5 separate regions of the Homo sapiens genome follow, and regions 1, 3, 4 and 5 are each reported to be linked to region 2. The links are microRNA targets in miRTarBase. Many come from high-throughput screens and were not tested one by one. Region 2 holds a microRNA gene; each other region holds the end of a gene's coding sequence.

Region 1 (4,058 bases), not on the chromosome of region 2:
GCATTTTGTGGTGGGGAAGTCCATGCCAGCCCTAGGAAGCCCTCTCACACCGATCGGGGTCCCCAACTGCCCGGCCCGGCGTCTCGTGCTCGCCTTCTCCGCACCCACCCTCCCAGCAAGCTCTAGTGGCATTGTTACTTCACCGGTTTCTCGGAAACAGAAACTGTGGCTGGGGCAAGGCAAGCGCCGGATCTCGCAGGCGTGTGGGGGCCTGGAGGTCCCTTGACAGTTCTCCGAACCCGGCGCCGGCCTCGGGATGTGGCCGGGGTGGAGGCGGCCGCAGAGCCTCCGCCTGGGTGGCCCCGGGGCCAGGCCCCCAGTCGAAGTCCGGGCCCAGCCGCCCGCGCCCCCCACCCCTGGCCGCCCGGACCAGCGCCCGCAGGCTCCGTGAACGCCCAGGCGCCGGAGACCCCGGCTCCCCACTCGCCCGCCGCCCGTCCCCCCGGGGACGCGACCTGGGCGCAGCGGCGGAGCTCCAGGTCGGCCCGAGCCTACGGCCTCGGCTTCGTTGTCGCTGGGCCCCGCCGCCGCGTCACGCGCTGCGCTCGGTCCCCACCCCCGCCCCGGACCCCGCTGCCGTCCCTCTCGGCCCGGCCCCTAACCCTCGCCGCGGGAAGACGAACCTGGGATCCCCAGGGCCCGGGCCCTCGCTGCGGCCTGCGTGTCCTGAAGCTGTCTCCCCCTCCAGGCGGCGGGCGGCTCAGCACCCACACCTGCACCCGCCTCCTACGCAGGGCCGAAGCTCCCGAACGCGCGGCCGCTCCCCGGACCTCCGCACTAGTTCCTTCCTTATGCGGCCCAGGGCTCCACCCTTGACCCGCGGTCCCCTCCCTAGAGGCAGGACCTGACACCCAGTGGGCTCCTTCTTTCCCTAGGGCGTGACCTCCGCAGGCTTCATAGACTCAAAGGTAAAAAACCTGAGGTGCTAGGAGGTGGCTAACGCCTGTGATCCCAGCACTTTGGGAGGCCGAGGTGGGGAGGATCGCTTGAGGTCAGGAGTTCGAGACCAGCCTGGCCAACATGGCAAAAACCCTGTCTCTACTAAATATACAAAAATTAGCCGGGCGTGGTGGCACAGGTCTATAATCCCAGCTCCTCCGGAGGCTGAGGTGGGAGAATCGCTTGAACCTGGGAGGCTGCAGTGAGTGGAGACTGTACCACTGCACTGCAGCCTGGGCGACAGAGCCAGACCTTGTCTCAAAAAATAAAAAACCTCTGAGGTTTTTTATCAGGATTAAGTTCATGAATTTCTTCCATCAGTCAACAAATATTTAGCAAGCACCTTGTTCAGGCAACCACCAAGGGTTGTGCAGGCTGTGTACTGCACAAGGGGACTGGCCCAGGACACATTAATTGCAGTCAGGGCTACATGTTCTCCGTGGAAGGCCGTCCTTTTGCAGTTTGCCATGGGCTGGTGGGTGGTGATCCTGCCCTGGCCAAAGCCCTTATCTAGCTCACCCTTGACTGAGATAGCTAAATGTGAGGAGTACTTATTGAGCACTGGATTATAGTCCATGTTCACACTGCTATAAAGAAATACCCGAGACTGGGTGATTTATAAAAGGAAAGAGGTTTAATTGACTTATAGTTCCATATGGCTGGGGAAGCCTCAAGAAACAATCGCTGGGCGCGGTGGCTCACGCCTGTAATCTCAGCACTTTGGGAGGTCGAGGTGGGTGGATCACGAGGTCAGGAGATTGAGACCACCCTGGCCAACATGGTGAAACTCCATCTCTACTAAAAATACAAACAAAATTAGCCGGGCATGGTGGTGGGCGCCTGTAGTCTCAGCTACTCCAGAGGCTGAGGCAGGTGAATGGCGCGAACCTGGGAGGCAGAGCTTGCAGTGAGCTGAGATTGCGCCACTGCACTCCAGCCTGGGCGACAGAGCGAGACTCCATCTCAAAAAAAAAAAAAAAAAAAAGAAAAGAAAAGAAAAAAGGAACTTACAATCATGGTGGTGGAAGGTGAAGGGGAAGCAACGACCTTCTTCACATGGCGGCAGGAGGGAGCCGGGGAAACCGTCACTTGTAAAACCATCAGATCTCGTGAGAACTCACTCACTATCATGAGAACAGCATGGGGGAAAACCGCTCCCATAATCCAATCACTTCCCACCAGGTCTCTCCCTAAACACCCAGGATTACCATTCAAGATGAGATGTGGGTGGGGACACAAAGCTTAACCATATCACGCACCAACTGTGTGCCAGGCACCATTCTAAATGCTTCGGCTTCATCCAATGTCCGTAAAGCTGTTGGCAAAGAGTAACACCAGGAGGCAGAGCCTGGGTGGCACTGCTGATCTGGCACAAGGTGGACTCAAGAGCTGCCCAGAGATGTCCACACACCCCAACCCCAGCCTGTGGCTGGGCCTCCAGAGGAAGCCAGCAGTACTGGACGGCTGCCAGGTGAGATACCTGCAGCTCACTGAGGGGTCTGCCCATGAACCTGTTTCTGTGATGGCCTGGTTCCTGAAATGCCAACCCCTCTGTACCTTAGACAGAAGCCATGCCATTGTACCATCTGCAGGTCCAGGCAGGACCACCTAAAGTCTGCCTTTCCTTCCAGAAACCACAGGGCACAGGTTAGACTGGGCACACCTTTTATTTGGCTGCATGCAGTAGGGCGAAGTCAGGAGAACACTGCTATCTTTCCAGCAGGACAAGAGGCAAGTTCCAAGGGTGGTTGGCTGGGAGACAGAGGTCTTGGGAATGGCAGTTCTAGGGGTGGGGTGGGGGCTTGGAATGCTCTCCAAGCCAGAGGGGGCCGGGCCTGGATTTGGGAGGTGGACAGGGGATTCTTCAAACCCCCTACCATACTCATCCAGGGCTCATGTGTCCAGCTGTCAGAGCAGGTCCCAATCCTGCTCCCCATCTACCCTGGGACATCCTGTACAGGATTCCCTCAGTCCTCTGGGAACCTAACCCCACCTGGTACCCATCTAGCTTCTGGGGCTCCACTGACAGTGAGGACAGTCCACACCCGACCTGGACCCCACCCCACCCTGGGTCTGTCCATCTCAGTCCCGGCCTGAGCCTCTGGGCCAAAGCCACCTCTTCTGAGCAGGCAGGCAGAGCGAGAGACTGGGAGCAGCAGACAGGGGCAGAGCACGGCCCATGAGCCCACCCTCCACTTCCCAGATTGGTCAGAGTTACATGGTCACCTCCCTGCACCTGCACCATCAGGGCAGCTGCAAGCTTGCCAGTTGTCTTGCCTGTCCCTGCTCCGAGGGTCAAAGAACACAGGTAGAATGGTCCCAGGAGGGGAAGGGAGAGACAGATCCAGGCTGGCCTCCAAGCTCGACTTTCTGAGGGGCCCAGGGGAACATGCTGCACCTCCCACATCTCAGGTGCTCCGTCTCTGAAAGGGGCACACGCAGGCTTCCCCGGCCATCATTCAGGTCAAGACCTTTCGGGGAGAGCTGGCCCGACCCCAGCATGCGAGGGCTGCCCACACTGAGAGGCTCCACAAAGAAGAGGCTGCTAGGGGCAAGGGTTAGAGGTCTGGGGACACCTGGCCTCCACCTCCCCTTCCCAAGCCCAGCCCTTTTCTGACAGCAGTTGTTTACCAGTCAGGGTTCAGCAGATGGGGGCTCAGGGGGTGTCAGGGCAGCGGGGGCCCGATGGTGATGCTGCTGTTGGTGACCCTCGGGCCGTACCAGCCGGCCCAGTAATGAGTGTCCACGCCGCCGTGCTGAAACCAGATGTAGCGGACGCCGGGCGGGTAGTTGGAGAATGTGTGGGAGACCTGGCAGGGCAGGTAGAGGGGGGAGAAAGGTCAAGGGAGCTGACTCAGGCTGGGTGTGGCGGCTCACACCGGGAATCCCAGTACTTTGGGAGGCTGAGGTGGGAGGGTTGTTTGAGCCCAGGAGTTTGCAACTAGTCTTGTCGCAAACCAGAGAGTGAGATACCATCTCTACAAGAAAAAAAAAATTAGCCAGGCATGGTGGTGTGTGCCTGTAGTTCTAGGCAGGCTGAGGCAGGAGTACAGGCTAAAGTAGGAGTTCAAGACTGCAGTGAGCTGTGATCACGTCACTGCGCTCCAGCCTGGGCAACA
Region 2 (4,064 bases):
CTGCCACCTGTGGGAAAAGATGGAAGAATAAAAGTTAGTCAAGGGGGTCTCTGCTGGGGCACTTTGTAACAGCTACCTAACTACCCACCACAGGTGGGCACCCCGATTTGTGGTTTCAAATGCATCTATCTCATCTAATTCTCACTGTGGGTATTCCCCCATTTCACAGACGTGGAAACTGAGTCTCAAGGGAGTGGCCAGGCACAGTGGCTCACACCTTTAATCCCAGCACTCTGGAAGGCCGAGGCAGGTGGATCACCTGAGGTCAAGAGTTCGAGACCAGCCTGACCAATATGGTGAAACCCTGTCTCTACTAAAAATATAAAAACTAGCCAGGTGTGGTGGTGTGTGCCTGTAGTCCCAGCTACTCGGGAAGCTGAGATAGGAGAATTGCTTGAACCCAGGTGGCAGAGGTTGCAGTGAGCTGACATTGCACCACTGCACTCCAGCCTGGGCGACAGAGCAAGACTCTGTCTCAAAAAAAAAAAAAAAAAAAAAAAAAAAAAAAGGAAGGGAGTGGCGGAGTGGAGTCCAAATTCCGCCCACTGCCATGTGAGAAGGCCAACATCCAACCACCAGCAATGATGTGTGCGCCAAGCCCCACTCTGCCTGGAAGAGCTTTCTCCTTCCAGACCACCCCCAACTCCTAGAGGGCTGACACTTTCCATTCTTTTGTGACACTTGACTGACTAAATGCTCCAAGGCTCCTAGGAGGCCTGAGTCAGTGATACAGAATTGAGCTCATGCCAGGCCCTGGGTGCTCCTGCTGTACTATAGCTCACTGACTCCTCACTACCATGCTTGAGGTGGCCAAGGGTAGATTTTGGCCACAGGGAGGCCAAGACAGGAGACTGTGGCACCAGGGGTGTGGCCACTCTGCCCCAGGGTGTTGGCCAGCCAGGATCTGAATGGAGACCTGGGTTCTGAACCAGCCCCCCTCCCTTATCTCCACCTCTCCCAAGCAGCCCATGTGATGCTCAGTACGCATGAGGACTAAGGGGAAACATCGCAGGCTGACCTGGGGAGGGGGAGTCATCTACGGGTACAGCTATGTGCTCTGTGGATAGATGCCCAGTGGCACCTGGGCTGGAGTTCCCTCCAATTTTTTTTTTTTTGAGATGGAGTTTCACTCTTGTTGCCCAGGCTGGGGTGCAATGGCATGATCTTGGCTCACCGCAGCCTCCACCTCCCGGGTTCAAGTGATTTTTGTGCCTCAGCCTCCCCAGTAGCTGAGATTACAGGAATGTGCCACCACACCCGGCTAATTTTGTATTTTTAGTAGAGACAGGGTTTCTCCATGTTGGTCAGAATGGTCTTGAACTCCTGACCTCAGATAATTCGCCTGCCTCGGCATCCCAAAGTGCTGGGATTACAGGGGTGAGACACCACAGCCAGCCTGCCTCCAAATTTCTAAGCAGCACCAACAGGAAAAGTCAGACAGGACTGTCCTTTCTCCTGTCTCTGGGCAGCCCTCCTCTGACCCCACCAGCACCCTGGGCTGTGCCCTCCAGAGAAGGAAATAAGTCTACCTGACAAAGTATGGGCTTTGGAAATGCTTGGGCAGCGACTAAGGGACCCAGCCCCACCCCAAACGCAGGCCTTACCTGTCCGGCGATTCTGTCCAGATCTCTTTGTCCCTGAGGTGTCAGTTTGCGGCCGCTGTGGGGAGGGAAGGGTCATGCAGGCCCCAGTGAGCACAGGTCCTGTTCTCAGCCCCTTCCCTCCTGGCTGTGAGCCAGGCTTCTCAAAAAGCCACCTGCCGCCAGCCAAGTCCCACTGAGGGCCCTAGTCAGGTGCATTCTAACGAGCTGGGGGCAGTAGTGGGAGCCCCCCTGGGAGCTGACGGGGTGTTGTTTGTGCAAGCATTTAGATCAAAAGCCCCGAAAAATCAATTGGGAAAAGTTAACGAGCAGGCTAATGAAAGCAGATAGTCGCTAAATTACCCTCCTGGAGCCTGGGCTAGTCAGCCAGAGAGGTCGGGGTGAGGCCCCGTGCTGTTTGCTTTTCTGCAGAATCCCCTCCTGCCTGCCTCTGATAGGAGGGGCCTGAGGGGCTGGGCAGACTATGCAGGACCATTCGTTGGGGAATTGATGACCGGGCCTCAAGGCTACTCCATCAATGCAGCCCCCTCTACCCTGCTTACCCATCTTGGTCCTTTTCCACCATTTTCAGCCCCTCCAGGGCTTGGAGGACCCGGCGGGCCACACTCTTGGAGCCTCGGCTGAAGTGGCTGGGCATGACGCCGTTTCTCTGACGTCCCCCATAGATCTTGGTCATGGAGCCAACCCCAGCGCCACCCCGGAGGTACAGGTGCCGCGCTGTGGAAGCTGGGGGTAGTGTGAGAGGGAGATTTAAGGGTCTTGATCAAGGTCTCAGGTAAACAATTCCTTGTGTGTAAACAGCTAATTCTCACTGTTTTATAAGAAGGGAAACTGAAAACACACACTAACACCCAGAAACTGACAGCCCCCTCTCCTCACCCACCCCCCCGGCTAGCTCTTCCTTGACAAACAGCCCTGCACCCTGGGTGGGCACTCCCACCATCTCCAGGGCCAACTTCTTTAGTGGTTACTATCCCAGCAGCACTGCTGTTGAATTGAACCTGAGGTTATGTAGGGGTGGAGCCTAGCTGTGACCATCTCCATGGGCCCCAGAGAAGCAGGAGTGAAGGGACCTATTGCCACTCTCCGGGCCACCTCAGTCTGGAGAGCTCAGGATAACAAGGGCAGGGCAGACACTCTGTGCAGTGGGTGCCCCCTGCTTGGAATGTGTACCAGCCCCTCTGCAGACACAGGGAAGGCTGGCTTGGGCAAGTCCCTGGTCCACCCCAGCCAGCCTCCTTGCCTGCAAAAAAAGCTCCGTAAAATCCAGTCGACACACCAGCCTCCCCAGAAACGCTTGCACGCTTCTATTAACTGGAGCACACATCTGCCAGGCCCTGTGCCAAATGCTTTTCGATCTCTCCACCCTTCTTCACCTGAGGGCCGGGTTACTCTGAGGACTCAACAGGTGTGTCAAGTGCTACTCTCCTTTAAAGAGTGAAACTGAGGTGCCAGAGGGTACTCACTGGCTCCGTGTCACACAGCTCTGGAGGAACTGCCCTGTCCTGCCACTGTGATGGCACCGGGGCCCACATGCAGGAAGCACCCAGATTTCAGCCATCACATGGTCCTGCCTAGCTCTGGAGCTCAGAGCAGAGTCTGGTTTGTTCCTGGGACCCAGAGATCAGCAAGTTGGTCTGAGTCTGCTCTAGTGATTTCTTTCCTCTAGTTCTAAAGATCAAGTGGGGGAATTGGGGGTTCTTCCATAACTGCCAAGTGCCAGGCAGTAGTCTGTGTGGGGTGGGCTGCTTCTGCCCAGAAACAGTTCTTACACACCGCTTGTTCCCAGCCCACTCCTGCCCTGAGATCAGGTCCAGATACAGCCAGCCCTTCATATCCACAGACTCAACCAAGGGTGGATCAAAAATATTTAGGGGAAAAAAACTACAATTCAAAACAGTGTAACAATTATTTACACCGTATTAGTGCTTTTTCTTTTTTCTTAAAACACAAAAAAAGGGCCTCATTCTGTCACCCAGGCTGGGGTGCTGTGGTGTGATCATAGCTCACTGCAGCCTCGAACTCCTGGGCTTAAGCAATCCTCTTGCCTCAGCCTCCTAAGTAGCTGGGACTATAAGTATGTGCCATGTCTGGCCTGTATTAATCTATAAGTAATCTACAGATGATTTAAAATATATGGGATCAGGCCGGGCGCAGTGGCTCACGCCTGTAATCCCACCACTTTGGGAGGCTGAGGCGGGAGAATCACCTGAGGTCAGGAGTTTGAGACCAGCCTGGCCAACATGGTGAAACCCCATCTCTACTGAAATTACAAGAAAATTAGCCAGGTGTGGTGGCACACCCGCTGTAACCCCAGCTACCTGGGAGGCTGAGGCAGGGCAGGAGAATCACTTGAACCTGGGAGGCAGAGGTTGCAGTTAGCCAAGATCATGCCACTGCACTCCAGACTGGGTGACAGAGTGAGACTCTGTCTCAAAAGTAAAACATCTACATAGGATATAT
Region 3 (4,058 bases), not on the chromosome of region 2:
TGTGTTTGCAGCAGACCTGAGGGATCAGCTAGTGACCGTGACAAAAGCTATGCTACAGTTTTACTCTTGCCCTCTCTGCCTCCCCCATCATGTTTCCTTGGTCCCTCAGTCCTGTTGGAGTAAGTTCCATATATAAAAGCTCATCCAAAACTTTGTTTCTTGGCAGAAAGAAAGAATTGTTCACTTACATCTTAAACCTAAATGATTCAGAGAAAGTGTAGAAGACCAGTTCTTATGTTTGTGTTCATGCCCTCCCTAGCCTTGCTAGGGTAACAACTGGGAAAGGAATTCTGTCCTTTGTGTCATTCTGGCACCTTCGAGTAGCAATTCTTAATTTACCGATTATTCCTTCTGAGGCGCACAGTCTGTGGATCCAGGTTTTAATCTTGTTTCTGTCCTGAACCATGTGATTTTGAGGAAGTCACTTCATCTTTGTGAGCTTCAGATTATCTTTTTCTCTAGAAAAAGATTGGACTAGATCTTGAAATACCTTTCTCCATGACTACAGGGTTGCCTGCCAACCAGAGCATATTGACTCCAACCTTTACTGAAATGGAGCTGTGACTTTGCTGGGGAGGGGGCAGGGTTGCATTTTAAAATTAAAAAAACAAAACAAAACACCTGATCTACAAGACAAATACTTTATCATAAGTTTGTCTTGTTATATTTCATTTTTTGTTTAAAAAAAAAAATCAAGCAAAAACTTGTCATTTCCAGTAAGACATTTACATTCCTGTCCAGAGAAAAAACTTGGCCATCACTCAGCTAACATAATGCTTTTTCAAAGTATGTTCACTTAAAGCAGTGCAGGGTAGGTTAACATGGTCACTGTATTTACATTATCAAAAAAATATGTGTATATGTATCAGTTTGAACTTGTTCTTCAAAGTTTCTCCAGTATATTGTCAAAAAAGATAAAGCTCAAGAAGTGGTTTAAATAAACTTTCTGCTAGCTTTCCTTATCAAGCGGGAAAAAAATCTGGTGCCTAGACTAGATTAAACCCGTATTCTGTCTTACAACGCAAAGAATATTCTGTACCTCCTTCATAAGCTTTGCTGCCTGTCTCCCCACTCTCATGACAGTAGGCTTCCTAGTCATCATACTTGTGGTTTCTGGCCTCCTGTGCAGCTTGGGGAAACCACAGTTTACCACTGAAAGAGCTGATGATAAACTGTCTTTGCTACAACCTGTTTAAGTCATGCTGAGCTTCTAGTGTTCCTCTTACCTCTTCCCAGACCCAATGCTCTCTGAATTATCAGAGAGCATTTAGAACCCAGTAAAGGTGGCAGAAGATGATGACCTTTATAGATGCATGGCTGTTTGGCCTGTTGACATAGGTGTCCTGGTGGCAAGAGCAAGGCAAGGTGTCAGATTCTGAAGCTGTCCTAAGCCTAGACTAACACAGTTTGGACGAATATAAAGCAGTAACCTCTGAATCAGCCCAGAGCCTCTCCGGGTTCTCCTTGGACAGAGCGATGGAGAGTCAGGAGAGTCAGGACCGACCTGGCCAGGCACTCCTGCTCTCTAGTCCTTGCCAGTCATCATCTGTCTCCAAGAGGCCATAGGGTTGCAGCCTTTGATTGATTTGCAGAGGCCTATTTGCTGTCTCCGTCAAAAGCCCTGGCTGGTGAAGTGTGACCCAGGATCAGCAAAGGAGGAATAATCCAGTCTGGCCTCTCCCACGGGACCACAACAGAAAACCTACTGGGTGGAGAGAACCCAGCGCTGGGCAAGAAGGAAGCAAACACCTCACTCAAGCCTAACAAGATTTCCTGTTTTCCCCCAAACAGGCACTGTTCTCCATCCTGCCCACCTCCAAACACTAGAGCATCGGGGCAGATGTTTTTGGAACTTGTTAGCCTCGCATCCCTCTAACTCCTGGGAAACTCGCTGGGGCCCTATGTGAACCCCTGGCCTTCCTTTTCCCCTAGGATATCAGATGGCTACAGACTGTGAGGAAGGAATTAGGCAGATGGTGCAGGACAGATCTTCCCCAGCCCCTCCCCCTACCCTTTTAAAAAGTAAGCCATCCCGAGTGGATAGCCTATTTCATCAGAGCTACTACAGCCGGAGCCTGACTCTTAAGACCCTGGAGGTGTGGCGTTTCACCCGAAAAATGGCAATTTCATTCCCCTAAGCAGTTCTGCCCATTTTCCTACTTGATCCCAGGGAATTTACGCCCAGAACGATGGAGACCATGGCGAAAGTTCAACATTCCACACAGGATTCCCCCTTCTCAATCAGATGAAACCTCACCATGCCCACTGCTTAGGAGCCTTCTACATGGCAGCTAACTGCCGAGCCCATAAAAGTCCTATATTGGGGAATAGACATAGCTTTGTGTTCCCCTGAGATGCCACCAGAAACTGCAAGAGAACCGCAGCAGCCCCACTAGGCTCACAGAGAAGAGGAACAGCAAGGCCTAGCTCCAGGCCAGGACAGTGGGACGTTCCCACAACAGTCTGTCCCCCAGGCTGCCCTTCATGCACCCAGCATGCACTGCGCTTTCCAGGCCCTCTTTTCCTGTGGCACAGGAGAATCAGAGTGAGTGAGATGAGCTAACTGGACGTCTGCCAACTGTCTGAGCTTTTGGCCTTTGGCAGTGGAGGGCTGGGTTAGAAAACAACTATAACAAAACTCTCAGCAACTTGAAATGTCCCTGAGTTTCCTATGATATACAGGGGAAAGCCTGTCCTTCCTGGCTGCTTTAATGGATTGTCTCTGAAGACACATCGCTGATGGGGGGCCCCGGGAAGGCCTCTCCTGCAGCCACTGCTCTTTCATACTGGGTCTCAGGGAATCACTCCCATCAGCTGAGCAGTGAACAACAAAAGGAACACGCTGCTCTCACTAGCTACAGCAGATTTTAGTCCCTGGTGGAAATGGAAGCCCAAAGAAGATCGTGGGTGGCCTCTGCAAGGAGTGCCAGGGGCAATGGGCCAGTGTTCCTGCTGACCCCTCATCAGCTGCCCTGAGATACCAGCCTGGACTCGAGTGTCCCCTTCTCTCCTCACCTGCACGCAGGTCCCCTAAGCAGACCTGGTTCACGCACGGAGACCTGTGTGGGTTAAGCCCCCATCTCACGAAGCAAATGTGAGAAAATCCGAATCCAGAACAAGGGGTTCAAGGTTATGAATAACCTGTGCTAATCCCAGAGGCCCCAGGACAGAGTAAGTGGGAACAAACACTGAGTGTAGGGAGGGGTAAGAACATAGAGGGTGGGAAGATGGGTACACGAGGCTGGGGTAGGAGAAGGAAAACTTGGGAGCTGGACTTTCAGGTCGTCAGATCCCACCGAGCCAGGATGTAGCCCTGCCCTCCTTTCCAGCCCAGCCACCTGCTGGAGTTTCACCCCTGCCCGGGACTGCTCTGGACGGAAGGCACATGTGAACACAGCAGTGTGGCATGGTGCAAATGGAATCTTTGTTCTCATCCTGGCTCTGTCACCAAGTGGCTCTGACCTTGGGCAAGTCACTTACCCTCTTCAGGTCTCGGCAATCTCACTGCAGAATGAAGGGATTCCACTAGTTCATCTATAAAGTCCCTTACGTGGCTTTTTCTTGATCTCCCTCATCATCCAGCAGCACTGAGCTCAGGCACTAGTGGGTTATTTTACAAGAGGAATCTGGACAGAATGTGATTTGTTCAGGTTGAAAAGGGAAAAATTAAGGCCCTGGGGGGATTGGGAGGGGACACCCCTCGGAGTTCACTCTCCCTCCCCAGTCTTTCCCTTCCCCATCCAAACGGCACTTGGGGTGGTTGGTCTGGAGCTCTGTGGTGCTGCTGGAGGCCACCGGCAGACCGGACTAGAGGTGTGTGTCTTCCTCCTCATCCAGGTCGTCCTTGGTCAGGTTGTCCAGAGGGACGATCCAGCTGTCCCCCAGCTCCCCGTTGAGGCTGACCACCTTCTTCTCCTGCATCTCAGAAGAGGTCTCCATCACTTCCAGTGTTGGGTTGTCATGGTAACCATTCTCCACTGTCTGCAGCTCCTCTGTTAGCCGCTGCTAGAGTGGGGAAGGTGACCGGTGAGAAGGGGGTTTCAGAGGGCTCTGAGCTT
Region 4 (4,058 bases), not on the chromosome of region 2:
AAGAAGGCAGAAAGGTAGGAGTTCTCAGAAAGATGAAACCACTGCCACAATGCACATCATTATTGTGATTCTCACTTAATTGTTGTTCTTTCCCAATATACTCGGTTTGGTGGAAGGACATGCTCTTTTGCATCCCTGAGTAGCTTTCCTAGACCCACAAGGGCCAGACAGGACAGCTGGGTGGTAGGCATGAGGTTCTGTGTTTTACATCACAGCGTGGCCACACAAACCAGTGCAGACATGAGAGCCCAGACACCTCTAATTTATCAACATACCGTCGAGCTTGGCCCAGGGGACATCCATCAGAACTCCTGTTTAGGGACAAACAAGCAGAATTCATTTTCCTATTGCTAATGAGGGAAATAGGATCTTCTTAAAATTAGTAAAACTTTTTCTCGACTTTAATGTAAGAAAACACACCGACAAATCTCCTTTTCCCCTGCAGGGCTGTGCATTCTTGTGGGGGTGTCCATCTACACTAGTCATTATGCGAATCGTGATGGAACGCAGTATCACCACGGCTATTCCTACATCCTGGGCTGGATCTGCTTCTGCTTCAGCTTCATCATCGGCGTTCTCTATCTGGTCCTGAGAAAGAAATAAGGCCGGACGAGTTCATGGGGATCTGGGGGGTGGGGAGGAGGAAGCCGTTGAATCTGGGAGGGAAGTGGAGGTTGCTGTACAGGAAAAACCGAGATAGGGGAGGGGGGAGGGGGAAGCAAAGGGGGGAGGTCAAATCCCAAACCATTACTGAGGGGATTCTCTACTGCCAAGCCCCTGCCCTGGGGAGAAAGTAGTTGGCTAGTACTTTGATGCTCCCTTGATGGGGTCCAGAGAGCCTCCCTGCAGCCACCAGACTTGGCCTCCAGCTGTTCTTAGTGACACACACTGTCTGGGGCCCCATCAGCTGCCACAACACCAGCCCCACTTCTGGGTCATGCACTGAGGTCCACAGACCTACTGCACTGAGTTAAAATAGCGGTACAAGTTCTGGCAAGAGCAGATACTGTCTTTGTGCTGAATACGCTAAGCCTGGAAGCCATCCTGCCCTTCTGACCCAAAGCAAAACATCACATTCCAGTCTGAAGTGCCTACTGGGGGGCTTTGGCCTGTGAGCCATTGTCCCTCTTTGGAACAGATATTTAGCTCTGTGGAATTCAGTGACAAAATGGGAGGAGGAAAGAGAGTTTGTAAGGTCATGCTGGTGGGTTAGCTAAACCAAGAAGGAGACCTTTTCACAATGGAAAACCTGGGGGATGGTCAGAGCCCAGTCGAGACCTCACACACGGCTGTCCCTCATGGAGACCTCATGCCATGGTCTTTGCTAGGCCTCTTGCTGAAAGCCAAGGCAGCTCTTCTGGAGTTTCTCTAAAGTCACTAGTGAACAATTCGGTGGTAAAAGTACCACACAAACTATGGGATCCAAGGGGCAGTCTTGCAACAGTGCCATGTTAGGGTTATGTTTTTAGGATTCCCCTCAATGCAGTCAGTGTTTCTTTTAAGTATACAACAGGAGAGAGATGGACATGGCTCATTGTAGCACAATCCTATTACTCTTCCTCTAACATTTTTGAGGAAGTTTTGTCTAATTATCAATATTGAGGATCAGGGCTCCTAGGCTCAGTGGTAGCTCTGGCTTAGACACCACCTGGAGTGATCACCTCTTGGGGACCCTGCCTATCCCACTTCACAGGTGAGGCATGGCAATTCTGGAAGCTGATTAAAACACACATAAACCAAAACCAAACAACAGGCCCTTGGGTGAAAGGTGCTATATAATTGTGAAGTATTAAGCCTACCGTATTTCAGCCATGATAAGAACAGAGTGCCTGCATTCCCAGGAAAATACGAAAATCCCATGAGATAAATAAAAATATAGGTGATGGGCAGATCTTTTCTTTAAAATAAAAAAGCAAAAACTCTTGTGGTACCTAGTCAGATGGTAGACGAGCTGTCTGCTGCCGCAGGAGCACCTCTATACAGGACTTAGAAGTAGTATGTTATTCCTGGTTAAGCAGGCATTGCTTTGCCCTGGAGCAGCTATTTTAAGCCATCTCAGATTCTGTCTAAAGGGGTTTTTTGGGAAGACGTTTTCTTTATCGCCCTGAGAAGATCTACCCCAGGGAGAATCTGAGACATCTTGCCTACTTTTCTTTATTAGCTTTCTCCTCATCCATTTCTTTTATACCTTTCCTTTTTGGGGAGTTGTTATGCCATGATTTTTGGTATTTATGTAAAAGGATTATTACTAATTCTATTTCTCTATGTTTATTCTAGTTAAGGAAATGTTGAGGGCAAGCCACCAAATTACCTAGGCTGAGGTTAGAGAGATTGGCCAGCAAAAACTGTGGGAAGATGAACTTTGTCATTATGATTTCATTATCACATGATTATAGAAGGCTGTCTTAGTGCAAAAAACATACTTACATTTCAGACATATCCAAAGGGAATACTCACATTTTGTTAAGAAGTTGAACTATGACTGGAGTAAACCATGTATTCCCTTATCTTTTACTTTTTTTCTGTGACATTTATGTCTCATGTAATTTGCATTACTCTGGTGGATTGTTCTAGTACTGTATTGGGCTTCTTCGTTAATAGATTATTTCATATACTATAATTGTAAATATTTTGATACAAATGTTTATAACTCTAGGGATATAAAAACAGATTCTGATTCCCTTCATTGTGTGAATGTTTTTTTCTAAAAAAAATGTGGAGAAATATGGATAATTATGACATTTATCCCTCATTAAGCTGCCTATCAGTTTGATTTGGACAACTTGACATTTATTTGAGACATTAAGCTACTTTCTGGTAATATATTAGGCATTTCTGCAATAGCTCTTTCAGGTAACTGAATATTATTAAGCATAGTTTTATCTTGCTTTGATTAAACCTCTTAGGCAAAAAATGGAACTTCATAAGCTAATACATTAGAAAGGGGTTATGATTATAAATCAGAAATGCTTGTGACATTAAGAAATGAGGCACTTGTGAAATTTCTTTGAAATAGCCAGCTCCTCTAATGTGTCTTCAAAATATAAAGTGATTCACAAAGGCATGCATCACACCTATTTGTAGCAGCCCATTCATTACATAAACCAGGGCATACCTGTGTGGGCTCTGTGAGTGAAGGGAGGCTTCACTACTTTCTGTGAGCAGTAAGGACTGGTATCTTTCTGTGAGCAATAAGGACTGGATAAAGACTGCATATCCTTGTGTCGTGTCAGCACCAATACAATAAGGAGGGTTTTAATGTGAAGCAGGCAATCTTCCAGCCCCTTCTGGTCTTGGATGAAATAGTTGCACAGAGTATTGCACCAAAAATACACAATGGAGGCTGAAAAGTTCAACATATTTTAAGTCAATTAATCAAATTGCATTGATTCTTGATGCTTTCTTAGAGGCCTACATGATTTCTTAGATTGCTCTGATAAACTATCATAAGGGGTCCACCTCCCCTCATTTAGCTCCCCCAGGGATTTCTTTTCCCCCATGTCATACACCCAGTCCTAAATCAACCCCCAAGGCTATCCTTCCATCCCTTCTGCAGAGGGAACTTTTGTCAGACTCTGCAACAAACTCCTAGCTCTATCCAGAGTGTCCTCTGCTGCTAAGATTGGTATCTTTCTCCTCAAAAGCCTGGATGGTGAATGGGGGTGCATTAGTCAGAATTCTCCAGAGAAACAGAAAAAATAAGATTCGCGTGTGTGTGCAAACATATATATAAATAAATAAAAATATATTTATTTTAAGGAATTGACTCACATGATTTTGAAGGCAGGCAAGCCCAAAGTCTGCAAGGGGTGGGCCAGCAGAGAGCTGGTGCTACAGTGCGGGTCTGAAAGTTGCCAGAGTCCCTTTTATAGAGAAGCTTAAAAAATATTTGTTGAATTAAATGTCTTAGGTAGAGACAAATTGAATTAAAGTGGTTAAGTAAATACTCTTAGGTGAAATTTGTGCAAATTATGAGTATAAAGAGGGTGAGCTACAGAACTCTCCATGACCACTCAAGAATGGGACCCAAAGGCAAATGATAACTTATTCATTCATCA
Region 5 (4,058 bases), not on the chromosome of region 2:
ACCACAGCCAAGGTAGCAGACGGGCCGGTCTGCCCGGGGTCGGGGCGCTGGGGCCTGCTGCCCCTCACCTGCTCTCCCCTCCTCTTCTCTCCCCTCCTCTTCTCTCCTCTCCCTTGTCAGGAGTTTGCAGACTCTCTGGGCATCCCCTTCTTGGAGACGAGCGCCAAGAATGCCACCAATGTCGAGCAGGCGTTCATGACCATGGCTGCTGAAATCAAAAAGCGGATGGGGCCTGGAGCAGCCTCTGGGGGCGAGCGGCCCAATCTCAAGATCGACAGCACCCCTGTAAAGCCGGCTGGCGGTGGCTGTTGCTAGGAGGGGCACATGGAGTGGGACAGGAGGGGGCACCTTCTCCAGATGATGTCCCTGGAGGGGGCAGGAGGTACCTCCCTCTCCCTCTCCTGGGGCATTTGAGTCTGTGGCTTTGGGGTGTCCTGGGCTCCCCATCTCCTTCTGGCCCATCTGCCTGCTGCCCTGAGCCCCGGTTCTGTCAGGGTCCCTAAGGGAGGACACTCAGGGCCTGTGGCCAGGCAGGGCGGAGGCCTGCTGTGCTGTTGCCTCTAGGTGACTTTCCAAGATGCCCCCCTACACACCTTTCTTTGGAACGAGGGCTCTTCTGTCGGTGTCCCTCCCACCCCCATGTATGCTGCACTGGGTTCTCTCCTTCTTCTTCCTGCTGTCCTGCCCAAGAACTGAGGGTCTCCCCGGCCTCTACTGCCCTGGCTGCAGTCAGTGCCCAGGGCGAGGAATGTGGCCAGGGGATCCAGGACCTGGGATCCAGGGCCCTGGGCTGGACCTCAGGACAGGCATGGAGGCCACAGGGGCCCAGCAGCCCACCCTTTCCTCTCCCCACTGCCTCCTCTCCCTTCCTACACTCCCAGCTCGAGCCGTCCAGCTGCGGTGGGATCTGAGTATATCTAGGGCGGGTGGGCGGGTAGCAGTGCTGGGCCTGTGTCTTGAGCCTGGAGGGAGTCTGCTCCTGCCGCCCTCTGCCCTGCCAGAGACAGACCCATGCGCTGCCTGCCCACCGTGCCCCTTTGTCCCCATGTCAGGCGGAGGCGGAAGGCCCACCGTGCCAGAGGCTGGGCACCAGCCTTAACCCTCACTCTGCTAGCACCTCCTCCCTTTCCCCAAGGTAGCACATCTGGCTCACTCCCCACTCCGTCTCTGGAGCCCACCAGGGAAGGCCCTCATCCCCTGCCGCTACTTCTCTGGGGAATGTGGGTTCCATCCAGGATTGGGGGCCTCTCTGCTCACCCACTCTGCACCCAGGATCCTAGTCCCCTGCCCTCTGGCACAGCTGCTTCCTGCAAGAAAGCAAGTCTTTGGTCTCCCTGAGAAGCCATGTCCCTCGTGCTGTCTCTTGCCTGTCCCACCTGTGCCCTGCCCTCCAGCTTGTATTTAAGTCCCTGGGCTGCCCCCTTGGGGTGCCCCCCGCTCCCAGGTTCCCCTCTGGTGTCATGTCAGGCATTTTGCAAGGAAAAGCCACTTGGGGAAAGATGGAAAAGGACAAAAAAAATTAATAAATTTCCATTGGCCCTCGGGTGAGCTGAGGGTTTTTGCAAGGAAGTTGTGGTGGCCAAGTGTGGTCTGTGGTCTAAGCCCAGCCTTGGGGTGGGGGGATGGAACTGGAACCCTGGGCTTGGTGGGGTGCACGGGGGTCCTGGCTTGGTTTCTGTGTCCTAAGGCTGCTGGCAAAAGCCCTTGACCCCGTTTCCTGAGGCCAGGAAAGCTGCTTGTGCTTCTGTGGTCTGTCCCCAAGGGCCCAGCACCGTTCTGTCAGGGAAAGAGGCAGGCGGCCATCAGCTCATACCTGGCGTGCCGCCGCCAACTCCCGCGGGGCACACGGCAGAGGTGTGGGGTCGCGCAGCCGCTGAGAGGGCCCCCACTGCACCTGGCCCAACCTCCTTCAGCGCCCCCCAAAACCCCACTGCTCCCATTCAGCCCCTGTCCTGGCGTCATTGTGTGTCCCAGCCAGGTGCTTCTGCCGTCTCCGACAGTGACAAGTGCCTCGCACTTCAGCCTTTGCCCTGAGCGCCCGCCCGAGGGGGCCGAGTGCGGCTGTGCCGGTGGCTGGAGTGCCGAGGGGTGCGGGGTGCCGGGGGCGGCCGCGTCTACGCTGTCCGGAGGGTGAACGGCCGCGGGCTTGTCGGGGCTGGGGGTGGCGCCCGAGCCGGGCGGGCAGACGAGGGGCCCGCGGAGACCCAGCCCCGCCCGAGGCCGCTCGCGCGGCGGCCCCGCCCCCGGCTCCGCCCCGCCGGCTTCGCGGGCTGGAGAGCGAGGGAGCCGCGGGCGAGGGATCGCAGGATGAGCGATCGGGGCCCGGGCAGCCGGCAGCGGACGCGCCCCCCGAGCCCACCGGCCCGCGCCCCGCGCCCCCCACGGCCCCGCGGTCCCGGTCCCGGCCGCATCACCCACGTCCCCCGAGCCCCACGGGCCATGCCCGGCCGGCCCTAAGCGCGGGCCGGGGGGCGTCCCCTTGCGCCCGGGCCCCGCGCTGGCGCCCCCCGGGCCGCCGCCCGGCGCGGGGGCCATGGCGTTCACCTTCGCCGCGTTCTGCTACATGCTCACCCTGGTGCTGTGCGCCTCCCTCATCTTCTTTGTCATCTGGCACGTAAGGCCGGGCTGGGGCTGGGGCTGGGGGCGGGGTGGGGGGCAGGGGCCACGCGGAGCTGGAGGGACCCAGGGCGGGTGGTCTCAGAGCCCAGGGGAAACTTGCTATCCCCCAGCCGTCGGCTTGTCGGCTTCGCCCCCATTAACACCCCCCGTGGTCGGCTTTCTTCCCGGGGCCCCCCTTCCTCCGCCGCCCCCGCCTGTCTGTGTGTATGTCAGTCGGTCTCTGACCCCCTCCTCTGCCCTCGTCCTCTGCTCCCATGCAGCCCGTGAGGTGGGGGGTGGAATTCTGGCATTTTTGTTGCTTTATCTTCTATGTCCCCCCCCACCACCATCCAGCCGCCTCCATTAGTCCGTCGGGCAGTTTGTCTGTCTGCTGCCCCCCCCCCCCCGCCTTTGTGGGTTTTTCCAGCCAGAGTGATGGAGCTGGTTGCTATGGCAACTGCATCTGTTTACAGGACCCACAGATCTCAGAGTCCATTAACCCTTTGCCTTCCCAGCCCCCTCCCTGACCAAGCAGCAGTTGGCTCTCATCAGCCCCCAGAGACCTAGCCCCCACCACCGGCTCACCTTGGGTTTCCCTACCCCTCCTGTTGGGGGCTTCCCAGCCCCCCAGGTTTCCTCTCCATTTTCCAGCTTCCCTCCTCTTCCTGTCCCCCTTCCCCTTTGTCTCTCACATACCCCTTGGTCTGTCCCTCGCCCTGGCCTAGCCTCACACCTGGTTCTTCAAAATGTCCATTCCTCATCCTGCATCCGACCCATCGCTTCCCCCAGGCTCCCTCCTCCTCCCCTCCCGCTCCTCTCCTCCAGGGCCTCCTCTGCCTGGCTCCCGTCCCCTCACTACAGAACTATCAATCAGCCTCCAGCTGGTTGTTGGGGGCCCCTGGCCCCACTTTACTGCCCTCCGTCCCCACCCCCACCCAAACCCCGTGCCTGTTTCTGTAACAGCCTGCCCAGCTCGGCCCTGGCTGGCTCAGCTCAGCATCCTCTGCTCACACCTCCCGCGCACACCTCCCTGATTGTCATTCCCTTTCAGGGGTCCTCTTATCCCTCCCTCAATCCCATTTCCCATAGCCCTTCCCTCCTTCCTCCCGGTGCCTCACCTGCTTCTTTCCCGGGCTCTCCACTTCCTCTCTCCTTTCTCTTCCTGGGACCTGCCGCCTGCTCCATGGTTCCCCCTGCGCTCCCTTTGCCATCCCCTGCCACCTTGCTCTTTGACATCGGGAATCCATAGACTGAACCCCTACTGTGTGAAGAGTGAGCCCCCAAAGGCACCTCAGCACACACCCCAGCTCCAGCCCTGTCACTCCTTGGCCTGGCTCTGCTCTCTCTCTGGGTCTTGGTTGCTTTGTCTTTCCCCCTCTCCCCCGCACCCCGAGTTACTCTATTTTTCTTTCTGTGGGGTAGGGGCAGGAGGGCTAGGGTTCTAAGGACTGGAGGGAGCT

Evidence for each region. The annotated mature microRNA hsa-miR-6797-5p reads AGGAGGGAAGGGGCUGAGAACAGGA and lies in region 2 at 1,702-1,726, opposite strand. An mRNA with a match to its seed (bases 2 to 7 or 8) in the 3' UTR can be bound and repressed. Matches are read on the target gene's strand: a 7mer-m8 pairs with bases 2 to 8, a 7mer-A1 pairs with bases 2 to 7 and ends in A, and an 8mer does both.
Region 1: miRTarBase lists FBXO44 as a target of hsa-miR-6797-5p. Seed matches in the 3' UTR shown: 7mer-m8 at 2,005-2,011.
Region 3: the mRNA of PODXL is a reported target of hsa-miR-6797-5p. Seed matches in the 3' UTR shown: 7mer-A1 at 2,605-2,611.
Region 4: the mRNA of EMP1 is a reported target of hsa-miR-6797-5p. The part of its 3' UTR that is shown has no 7-base or 8-base seed match.
Region 5: miRTarBase lists RAB1B as a target of hsa-miR-6797-5p. Seed matches in the 3' UTR shown: 7mer-m8 at 626-632 and 7mer-A1 at 1,387-1,393.

The regions. Positions count from the first base shown.
Region 1 is chr1:11,660,821-11,664,878 of GRCh38, reverse strand. It overlaps FBXO44 (F-box protein 44), which reads right to left. Exons shown (of 6, transcript NM_033182.7): 6 at 1,552-3,749. The coding sequence ends at 3,606. It overlaps FBXO6 (F-box protein 6), which reads right to left and starts at 679. Exons shown (of 6, transcript NM_018438.6): 1 at 624-679. RefSeq lists an enhancer at 104-153 and silencers at 274-343, 394-613.
Region 2 is chr19:41,867,294-41,871,357 of GRCh38, reverse strand. It overlaps MIR6797 (microRNA 6797), which reads right to left and starts at 1,731; the gene lies at 1,660-1,731. It overlaps RPS19 (ribosomal protein S19), which reads right to left. Exons shown (of 6, transcript NM_001022.4): 4 at 2,144-2,327; 5 at 1,605-1,659; 6 at 1-7. RefSeq lists an enhancer at 1,325-1,883.
Region 3 is chr7:131,500,504-131,504,561 of GRCh38, forward strand. It overlaps PODXL (podocalyxin like), which reads right to left. Exons shown (of 9, transcript NM_001018111.3): 9 at 1-4,005. The coding sequence ends at 3,808. Among named protein-coding and RNA genes, the nearest start is that of PODXL, 54 kb to the right of the region's middle.
Region 4 is chr12:13,214,089-13,218,146 of GRCh38, forward strand. It overlaps EMP1 (epithelial membrane protein 1), which reads left to right. Exons shown (of 5, transcript NM_001423.3): 5 at 446-4,058. The coding sequence ends at 603. Among named protein-coding and RNA genes, the nearest start is that of EMP1, 19 kb to the left of the region's middle.
Region 5 is chr11:66,275,924-66,279,981 of GRCh38, forward strand. It overlaps RAB1B (RAB1B, member RAS oncogene family), which reads left to right. Exons shown (of 6, transcript NM_030981.3): 5 at 1-12; 6 at 121-1,569. The coding sequence ends at 315. CNIH2 (cornichon family AMPA receptor auxiliary protein 2) reads left to right here and starts at 2,252. Exons shown (of 6, transcript NM_182553.3): 1 at 2,252-2,614. The coding sequence starts at 2,534. It overlaps LOC107984340 (a long non-coding RNA gene), which reads right to left and starts at 2,602. Exons shown (of 2, transcript XR_001748274.1): 1 at 2,572-2,602. RefSeq lists a silencer at 2,028-2,357.